Regions from separate parts of the Homo sapiens genome. Here region 2 is linked to region 1. A link means that fine-mapping ties the variant in region 1 to the expression of a gene that starts in the linked region. Tissue or cell type: prefrontal cortex. Region 1 holds a variant in brackets; the other region holds the start of a gene. All regions are shown on one strand. Distances are between the middles of the regions. Region 1 overlaps ATOSA (atos homolog A). Region 2 holds the start of ATOSA (atos homolog A).

What was found.
Region 2: it holds the start of ATOSA, and the variant in region 1 is fine-mapped to the expression of ATOSA in prefrontal cortex (BrainSeq, PIP 0.90).

The regions. Positions count from the first base shown.
Region 1 is chr15:52,656,231-52,661,617 of GRCh38, reverse strand. All of the region lies in intron 2 of ATOSA (atos homolog A), which reads left to right. Among named protein-coding and RNA genes, the nearest start is that of ATOSA, 20 kb to the left of the region's middle. RefSeq lists an enhancer at 2,346-2,535. The variant A/TA (reference allele first, on the strand shown) is at 3,046.
Region 2 is chr15:52,676,356-52,681,742 of GRCh38, reverse strand. ATOSA (atos homolog A) reads left to right here and starts at 2,355. Exons shown (of 13, transcript NM_001385016.1): 1 at 2,355-2,915; 2 at 3,621-3,737. The coding sequence starts at 3,722. LOC105370821 (a long non-coding RNA gene) reads right to left here and starts at 2,138. Exons shown (of 4, transcript XR_932255.4): 1 at 2,050-2,138. RefSeq lists a silencer at 2,420-2,739 and enhancers at 3,320-3,459, 3,590-3,659.

The sequences.
Region 1 (5,387 bases):
ATTAAATCCACTTTAAAAAGCTGAGGGCGTGAAAATAATTTTGTTATTCTGAAATTACAAAATCACTCTGTCACTAGAAACCACAGTTGGAAAGATCTTTAGAGTGTGTGAGTTTCTTTCATTTTTACAGTTGAGAAAATGTAAGACCCAGAGAAAAGCAACCTGTCCAACTAAAAAAGTAAAACTCAAATTCCCTGCTAGTTGCTGGAATATTTTCTGTATTTTGTATTACTTCATGCCTCTAGCAGAGCACAATTGCCTCTAGGTTCTGGCACCAGAAATGAAATAATGATCATCTGGCTTTTATCAGGAAACTGGAAAGAAACAGGCTAGGTGATTATATTTTGACATTGTTCTCAAAGTAATACATAGATACTCTTAGAAGTAAGTCGAATGGTAATAAGTAGACTCAAAGTAAATAAGACATTTCATCCTTGAAACTAGGAAGCTGAGAAAGAGATGGATATAAAGAAATAAGAAATTAGAGATAATTGTCAAATTAAATCAGGAAATGGTATAAACTAATTATTTAGAAATATAGAGGACAATTTTTTTCTTTAGTTTCAATGTGTAAAAAATGAGGCTAGTGATAATACCTACTTAAAGGGCTACTGTAATGAGGAAATGAGATAATCCATATAAGGTGCTTAGAAAATAGTATTTAGGCCAGGCACAGTGGCTCACGCCTGTAATCCCGGTACTTTGGGAGACCAAGGCGGGTGGATCACCTGAGGTTGGGAGTTTGAGACCAGCCTTACCAACAAGAAGAAACCCCATCTCTACTAAAAATATAAAAAAATTAGCTGGGATTGGTGGCCCATGCTTGTAATCCCAGCTCCTCAGGAGGCTGAGGCAGGAGAATTGCTTGAACCCGGGAGGCGGATGTTGCAGTGAGCCAACATCGAGCCATTGCACTCCAGCCTAGGCAAAAAAAGCGAAACTCTGTCTCAAAAAAGAAAAGAAAATAGTATTTGATTCTGAATAAATACTCAATAAATTTGCCTGTTGTTATTGTTAATAAATTAGCATTTCTTCAGTGCGTAAGATAAACACATTCCAAGTGCGCTGAAGGAAATATACGAAGGCTAAGAGAGTGACTAAGTGAGAGCAAGGAGAAGTCCTCTTTGGTTAGGTAAGGCCCCTGAGAAAATGAGCAGAGGATGAGAAGGCACCAGCTGTGTAAGGGGAAAGAACATCCCAGGCCAAAGGTATATGTGCAAAGGTTCTGAATTTAGAAAGAGTCTGGCATGCTTTAGGAACTGAAAGAAGGCCAGGTACTATATGATAGTTTGTGCTTCCCTCATTTCTTCATATTATACTGTCTCCTTCACTAGAATAATTGTTCTTCAAGGGTGGTGATGACATCTGACTTCTTCCCAGCTGTTTTCCTCATACCTGTCACAGGTTGGCACAGAATTAGTATTTATTAGATGCTTGATAAAAAATTAAGCGCCTGTTGCTTGCTCAACAACTACTATGTAAGTTCTAAGATATCATAATTTTATTTTTGGGCTTATATCAGTGAGTTTCATGAAATACAAAATTCACGCTTAAAAAATTTAACATATTTAACTGTTTTATATCTCTAACTGTACCATTAAGTTCAAACTACTTTGATGGGCTGGGTTAAATGCTACATAGGATGATCCTGGTTTATGCCTGTTGTCCTGTGTCCAATCCTATTTCACAATGGTCTCCTTTCACTCTAAGTGTGTTACCACTGTTTGGATCATGAATTTTACTTTTTTATTTTTTTAATATATATTTTTTTCTTTTTAGAGACAGGTCTTGCTATGTTGGCCAAGATGGTCTTGAACTCCTGGCCTCAAGCAAACCTCCCACCTCAGTGGGCAATGAATTTTATGATAACCCTAATAGTCATTTTACTGTTCTGCTAGTGCACTCAAGTCTTGTCTTTCATTAACTGGTATTTCATTCTGTACTTAGATAGCTTAAATATAGATTAAAATAGCTCATTTGCCCCAGCTGTGTTTTGTAGGATATTGCATCTAATATTTTGTAATTTACATGGGTCCTTGTATGAAATCAAGGGATTGACAACATGGGATGCTTGTTTTGATTTAGTACAAAACACTTGGATTTTGTTTTAGAAATGCTCTATTTCTAAAATGTTTCTACCAAACACCCATATTTTGACAAAATGTTCTTTTTCAAAGTGATAGGAATTCTTATGAATATTTCCTTCTGCAATAAACAGTTGTGATTATATAGTCATATTGGTTAAATATGACAACATTTTAGAATTTAACTGTTAGAAATAGTAAAACCTTAGACATCTGGACCATTCTCCCTCTCTTGTTCACTGAAACAAGTATAACCAAGCACTTTCAATGTGCCTGGCACATATGTGCTAGAAGTACTGTGATGAGCAAGAACTAACATGGCCTCTGCCCTCAGAAACTTGTGGTTTGAAAAAAACAAGAAACAAAAAACAAAGTCCTTTCTTCCTGGGGCAACAGGTGAATCAGAAGCTGAGGTTACCCTATGATGTTTTAGAAGAGCTGGGGGTTGGGGGTAGGGGAGCTGGCCCAGAGGAGTAAGAGAGTATCAGATGGCCCGTACAAACTTACAGAAATTGTACACTCTACTATCCCTTTCTTTTTTTGTTTTTTGAGACAGGTTCTTGCCCTGTTGCCCAGGCTGGAGTACAGTGGCTTAATCGTGGCTCACTGCAACCTCCAGTTCCTAGGCTCAAGCAATCCTTCTGCCTCAGTCCCTGAGAAGCTGGTACTACAGGTGTGCATCACCATGCCCAGCTGATTTTTAACTTTTTTTTTTTTTTTTTTTTTTTTTTTGTAGAAACGAGGTCTCACTCTGTTGCTCAGCCTGGTCTTAAACTCATGTCCTCAAGCAATCTTCCTGTATCAGCCTCCTAAAGTCTGGAATTACAAGCATGAGCCACCATGCCTGGCCTCCACTATCCCTTTCTGTTTGTGGTGGTCTCCTATATTTTGAGTTTGAATGGGAAGGGAGCATGCATGTTTGATGGTTTGTTTTGTTTTTGTGAATGAAGAATGAAAATTT[A/TA]TTCCCATTAAGTGCGAGCTTCAATTGAGGCACTCAGTTTATGAGGTCTTACTGATGTTTCCTCTCTTAGGTGCTGTAGTTAAAATCTTGCTGGTCTAAAATGGTGAAAACTATTGAGGTATTCAAATGATAAGTACTTTATAAACTGAAATTGCATTGAAAACGGAGAGCTCTTGACAGAAAGGTTGACTCTAGCATTTATATAAGGAAAAAGACAACTATTATCTCCCTCTACACAGAAAGCTATATTCAGTAGTTATAGGATTTGTACATTGTGAATCCTTAGGGATCTCTAAACATCTGTGTCTTTAGAAGTAGTGTCACCTCTAGTAAAAGAGGGCCAGTAGAATTGAGTGGTGGCAGCCTGTGATGTATATGAATTTTGGCTGTACGTCTCTAGCGACTATTTTCTCCAACTCTATTTAGTAAAATTCTACCTAATTTCAGCTATTGTGCTTCCAAAGTCCATGTTTGTTGAATATGATATGGTAAAAACCAATATCTATTTGGAGACAGTGGAGGGGATGGTAGTAATTGAGAGACAGTGTCAGATGGAGCAGTGACTTTACAATTTTTTTGACTGCAATCCACAATTAGACATTTCACATTGCTCCCCCATGACAACATCCCTATCGACCCCTGCCCAAAAACAAGTTATTTACCAATCTTGCTATAAGCAATGATGACTGATTTTTTCTTTTTTCTACTTTATTTAAAAAGAAAATTATAGTCTCAACTCTTTATATTAATTTTACACACATTAATTCTACAGATTGTTTTAGCACTTAGAACTAAAAGTGTTCAAGATTTGATTTTGTTACCTTCTCTGTGTAAGCTAAAGTTGCTGACTTTTCTGAGTTTCCATTTTATTGATTAAAACTGGGATAGTAATAGTATTTTACACCATTTTATAACTTTATTAGAATGACATAATCTGAGTGAAGTGGTTGTGCCAGGCACTTACTAAACACACAGTCAATGAGTATGTTCTCTCCGAAGTTTGTTAGCTTAGGGAATTGGGAGGATGCCACTGATAATAATGGTGACTCTTATTCAGAGGAAAACTAATTCAGTTTTAGACATGCTAGAGTTTGAGGTAGCCAAAAGAGTTTAGTCATATCACTTGGAAGCAAACCAATGTGAAATAGTTTCAAATAAGCAAATTTTAAAAAATGTTAAATGCAAAGCAAACAGTATTAAAGCTTTGGGGACTTAATGATTGAGTCTCCTTACACCTACACAAGATTGGCTAAATACACATACAACTGTGTCACTCTACCAGATTTCTGTTAACATTCTCCAGAATTTAAACTGCAGAATCAGTCATTTGTATGACTGTTTGTCTCTATTAGCAGAGGTAATGACATGTATCAGTGATAGGTAATTGTGGAAAAAAAAACAGCACTTGGAATTAAACCTAGAGTTGGTGATTCTTACAGGGTAACCCAACGGCTACCTTAATTTCTATGATTCAGTTTCTTCATCTACAAAATATTATTTCACAAAGTTGCAGTTGTCAAAGGGACAAGTAAATATGGGATCCATTGTCTTCATGGAAAAACTTTTCATAAAATGTTATTTTATTATAATAAAAAATGTGTGATTGGTTTTCAATTTCAGATTGAATCAAACATAGCATTCTTTGTAATAGCAGGAGATTAACAACATCCCAGAATATATCTTTAAAAGAAGTATGGATAAAGAAAAACCCGTATGCACCTCTGCACACATTTTATGTAATAGTGGTGATACTAATTTACAAAGACAAAGTATATAGGATATTAAAAGTGAATTCTTAATACCTGATCTTGATTCTTATTAAATCTGACTTATGTGTATACAAGATATTATTAGATGAAGTGTTTGTCCAGTAGCTTAGCTTATAAATAACCCCCATTCTAGCTCATTTTAAACAATGTAGTATGAATGATGCCAAAAACAGGCTAGAACATTTTCTTCTTTCCAAGATCTTAGATTTGGTAAACAAGCTACTGCTCCTGGAACTAATCTAGGTCATCATAACCCAAAATCTTTTGAAATATGAGAGTCCCAATTAAGTCTCTTAGGTACTTTTTAGCATTTTAATTTTAAGAATGTGTTTAACTCTTAAAACAGTATATTTTGGTTGCTGTTTGGCCATTTGGTTTATTTGTACCTTGTTATAATGAATGCAAGTCAGTGGGTAATCATTGCAGCAAATATGATTGCTAGGAATCTCATGTAAGTGGAAGTCAATATAATGTATGGCTTAATTTATCCCTGAACTGACCTAACATCACATTTTGTTTTTTAATAAAAACTGGTTTAATGATATGATAAATTTCTGTATTTTCCACAACTGT
Region 2 (5,387 bases), 20 kb before region 1:
AGTTAATTACTCATATACGGCTTTGAAACCCTAGGGGAAAGCAAAATGGAAAGCAAATCAGATGAAAAGAGGGTAAGGTTCCTGCCAGCTATCTTGATTCCCTTGCTTACCCTTACCCTTCACCAACTAGGAACTAGAAACATTTGTTCTGTTTATGTGCTCTGAGGTGTGAACAGAGCACCTTAGAGTGAATTGCCATTTCAAGTCATTATTTCCAAACGCTCTGAACATGTGTTACATAATCATAGGATAAAAGAAAGCGATAACTATTGTCAGAGTCTAAACACCTCACTTTTATAGGTGAAACAAAGGTGTTAGAATGTGACTTGATTAGGGCCATGTAACTGTAATAGTACTATAAGCTCCTTGAAAGTAGTGACCCTATCTGGTTTTGGTGACCTTTACATTCTCAGAGACTTGTATGAGCCTAGCAGGTAGTATTCAGTAAATGCATATTATGGAATGAAACAATTTGAATAATGAGTCAGAAATACACCTTTTAAATACTTTTTCTGCTGCCATAATGATTTCAAATTTTTGAACAGGTTTAAGATTCTAAATTTAAAAAAACTTCAGGTTAGTCTAACAAATGTTGACATCATCATTTACCCAAGTGCTGTTAAAAATTATTTAAAAGAGAATAGTTTGTGCTACACACTAATAGTCTTGGCTTCTGCTCTCAACATTTCCTGGTCTTTTTACCTCTTTTGCATTAGATAGAGGAAGAAAGAAGCTAAACCAGATTTTGCTGCCTGTTCACCCAGTAAGCCTTTTACAATAGCTGTTATTTGGTCCCAGCTGTTGTGCTAAATTTAGGTTTTTGGCTTATCTGTAACTGTTCTGTCTCCCATTACCAAGTGCTTGTAGAACAAGTAAAACTTCAGTTCATTTTTTAAAAACTACATAATACAGTATTCAATAATATCAAAGTCAAATCCACTGGGATTTAACATTTGTAGCATTTTATAGATTAAAGAACTGTTTCCATTTGTCAGTTTCATCGTCATGATGCCAGAACATTTCAGAGAAAATGAAATGTTACCCTCCTGAATGTTCTCTCCGCTCTGATTAGATACAATCGTGGAGTTAAGGTTAACAATTTCAGTTGTACATGTTATTTTACTGTACATATCTAAGCACTAGAAAATGTTACTTTTTAAATATTTCATGCCTTTTTCATAAGAACTTTACCTGAGGCCAAAAAAATGGAACTGCCAATCTTGCAGTTTATAAAACTCTTCTGATGTGAAAATAATAGACTCATTGTAAAAAAAATTTTAAAACAGAAGGGCACAAATAAAAAAAATCCCCTTAGACTTGTCCTAATACTTTCCTGTGATCCTTTTATGCAAAATTATATCTAAAAAAAAAACTTTTTCTAATGAAACCAAAGAGCCTTGCAAATTTTTACTTGTCTCCATTTGGGCTCATGCCCCATATGTACTTTGTCTATAGACTGAGTAGCTAATAGCTGCAGCGCTTGTTAGGATTGGGTTTTTTTTTAAGTACAGCAGATTCCTGTCATCTGTTTGTGTTTAAATGACGACAACATCACAACATGAAATGCCATCATGTCACATTGCTATAGCACAACAACAAAATTACAGCTCCCCAACAATAACATGCTGTCAAAGTGTCCTCCTGCCCATGAGTCAGTGTTTTAGAAGTTATGAAGATTATTTTTAGCACAGCGAGTGTCTTGGAAGCTTGGGTTCTGAATCCTACTAAAATCCTTAGTGATTTGGGAAAATCTAGGGTGGGGGTGGGCTTCCTGTTCTTAAATTCTCCCACTCCCTGACCCGCATAGCTGCCCACCCCCCGTCCCGGTCACATTAAACCCGGGTTCCATTATGCGCTGCAATCCACTTGGGGCTCGATCACAACTCTGTGCCAGCATCCCGGGAGGAGGAGGAGGAGGAGGAGGAGGGGGGGAAGGAGGGGGAGGGGGGAGGAGGAGGAGGAGGAGGAGGAGGAGGAGGAGGAGGAGACGACGACTATAATTATCCTCCACGTCTGGGGCAGGCCTTTGGATGACATCTCCCCAGTTACCCTGCGCTCTAATAGCGCAGCTCCGATTCCTGGTCTCAGAATCCAGGCGCGCCTCTGCCGGCTGGGAGCGCAACCGAAGTGCCTGGGACGTCTCGGGCTTCCGGGACTCTGCTGGTGTCTCCCAGCCGCCATCTCCAGCGCCCTCGCACCCGCCGGGCACCTGCACCGAAAACCCGGCCCCAAACTAGCGCCCCGGGGCGAGCGGCGGCATTGCCATAGTAACCGGGCGCCAGGGCCGCGGAGGCCGCCGGGGAGGAAGTGACGACCGGGGTGGGTTGGCTGTTGTTGGGACACGTGACCTAGGCAGTGTTTTGACAGGGCAAACAGCAGAGAAAGAACTGGCCGAGCGAGGGGGACGGGGAGCCGGGGCGCCAGAGCTAGAGACAGCGGGCGGGCAAGGAGCTGGCAGAGGCGCTGGGCAAGAGGGCCGGCCGGGGCTACGGGCGGGGGAAGCCCGGGGGTCGCGGGGCTCGGGTGCCAGTCAGGCAGGGCGGAGGGGCTGAGCGCAGGGAGCGGAGCGAGGCGGTGGCTGAGGCGCGGGTGGATGGCCACAGGGGCGCCGGGGAGCCGCTTCGGGCTGGTCGTCTCGGGTCCCCACGGTCACCTGAGGCAGCCGCGGGGGCCGCTGCGCTCCATACTCCGCTCCCGCTGGCCCTGCGCCTCTCGGAGCCTGGGGTCTGAGGTGGGAGTGTGATGTGAGCTGCTGGGCGAGCGGTGGAGAGAAGTGCCAAGAGGAGGCGGGATTGGGACGGGAGAGGAGAGCGAGTTAGTCAGCAGAGGTCGGCCGAGGGAGCGGAGGAGCCGGCCAGCTCGAGAGCGCCATGAAAACAACTCTCCAGCGGGGAGAGGGGCAGACGCGGCGCTCGGTGCGGCGGGGCTGAAGGAAATCCGGGGCCGCGGCGGGACGGAAGGGGTTGTGCAGAGCAGGGGGCGAGCACAGGCTGTAAACACCTCCCCCGGAGCCGGCCGCGGAGGACTGGTTGGGAGTTGGTAGGGTCGCCCCGGGACAGCCCGGAAGAGTTCGTTTGGGGCTGGGGGCTGGGCGGGAGGAGGTGACTCGGGTTTCTGTGTAAACTTGGCCGCGGTTGCCGCAGGAAGGCTAGCCAGAGGGTAATTACACAGGTGAGGCCCGGCGGGGCGGGCGGAGGGCTCGGGAGGCGCAGGGGACTGGAAGAGTTGGCTGCGCCCAGGCACCAGGTGGAAGAATTTCCATACCAGCCCTGCGGAGGTGCCTCTGTTTCCAGAGGCGTTTTTGTACGAAGGGGTTAGTTTGTGTTGCTCAAATCTTTTTCTTCTTCTTGCCTGTACCTCCAGGTTATAAATAGATCCTGTTTTGGTTCAGAGACTGTGTCAGAAGGACACATTGGCCTGGAGAGCACAGAGGCAGGGAAGGGGGTGCTCGATCCGGAGGAGATGGGGGAGGCGGTGCAGAGAGTTTTGCTTTTTTCAGACCAGCCGAGGGTGCTGTCACCGCAGTTGGTGCCAGGAAGAGGCCTAACTTAACAGTAGTTTACTTGCAAGGTCCGGGTATTAGAATAGGGCCAGATTAATTTTATTTTTGTCTCTTTCAGCATTTTGAAAGCGAAGCAGAAGCCGTAGAATCAGCGGCGAGCCTGTTGAAAGAACCCACAGGTGCATTTCACAGCACTCTGGGCGAAAATTGGATGTGAAAATGAAGCCAGACCGAGGTAAATGATTTGTTTAAGTAGGGCTTGTTCCCCCACCCCCTTCTTTTCTATGCCTCAATTTAGAAGTGTTAACCTAATTCTGCAGTAGGATCAACTATTTCTGTATCATATGTGATTATCTGTTTTTGTGACAGATTCCAGCTGGTGAGGTAGAGAAAGGCATATGGAAGAGAAGGTTAAGCGTTTTTACAAAAGTGCTTCTGAAGCACTAGCTTCAAGAGAGATTCTAGTGTATCTCAAAATGAAAGTAAAGAATGGTATTTGTATCTGTTGCCACAATACAGGTATCATTTTAGAGTTGTACTTGCTCGTTTTTAGGTAGTCAATCTAACTTCAACTTTCAAGAAGTTCATAAGCTTTTTAAACTTGAATGTGAACTTGATAAAATGAAGAGAAAACTTAAGCTTGAGTTGACAACTGTTATTTTATTACTACTTTGATTAGTTGATTTTTGTGCTTTAAGCAAACTCCAAAAGTTTGCAGAGTACTCCAGTATTCAATATACCAGCATATGGACAGTTTGGGCCACTGAAATCCCTGGTGATAAGTAAATGTCACTTCTTTTCTAAACCTGTATTTTCAGGATTTATAAGAATAATATATACACTGCTTTTCAAGGACTTCAAGGTAATTCTTTATCAGTCTTCTGATTAATGGCAAGAACCAATTTTAGAAGATGTTAATATAGTAGTGGTTAGTAGTGAGAGCTTTTCAGTCAGATATGAGTTTGATTCCAAGGAACATTGTGAAGTGGGGATTATTTTATTTGGTAGGGGGCTGGACTAGATGACAGATTTCCTTCCAAATCCAAGTCTTTAGGATTGGAAATGTTAATTTATCCTACGAATTAGATGCTTATTTTAAAATTTATATATATTAAACTGGTTGTTTTTCCATATATTTTTTCAAAGTGATTAGACAAATTTTCTGGGTAAAATAGGTCTATTGAAATGCACCAGAAGGAATTGGAGAAAACCATACTTAATTTAGTGATTTAAATTAGTTTTAGGTGTTGGCTATTACATACAATCAGGCAGCAGCTATGTATGTATCAAGTATTAGTAAGTGTATTGCTCCTGAGCAGGTTCCTTGTGTAGAATGCCAAGTTTAGATTTTTAGATTACATCAATCACTTTGGAAAAATGGCACCAAGGTTAGTAATTGATTCTCAGAATAAACAAGCAAATAAAATCAAAGTCACTATTTATTTTGAATTGTTGTGAAAAGTTGCTTTACAGTCATAAGCAGTTTTAAAAATAGTATTTGCAGCCAAAACTAGTGTTAAACACAATAAAATGTTTAGTTACGTACTGATATAGATTTTTAGGGGAAACAAATTTATTCATCAAGATTTCCAAAGAAGTTTTCACCTTAAAAATTGTAGCTTTCTTTAGCATTCTCAGGTAAAGATGATGGGATTGTGAGTTTAGTATTGTGATTATATTCCATAATAATAACATAAACCTTTAGACCCATGGCTTTTTTTTTCTTTTACTAAAACCAGTGTAAGTAATCTTTTACTTAGCAAACTAGTACAGAAATATTGAAATAAGCTTTTCACAAACGTACTTACCCTTACTGTGCGCAATGTAATGTTGTATTTTCTATTCTATTTCACGTTTTGAAAAATTGCTGTCACCACCCATTGAA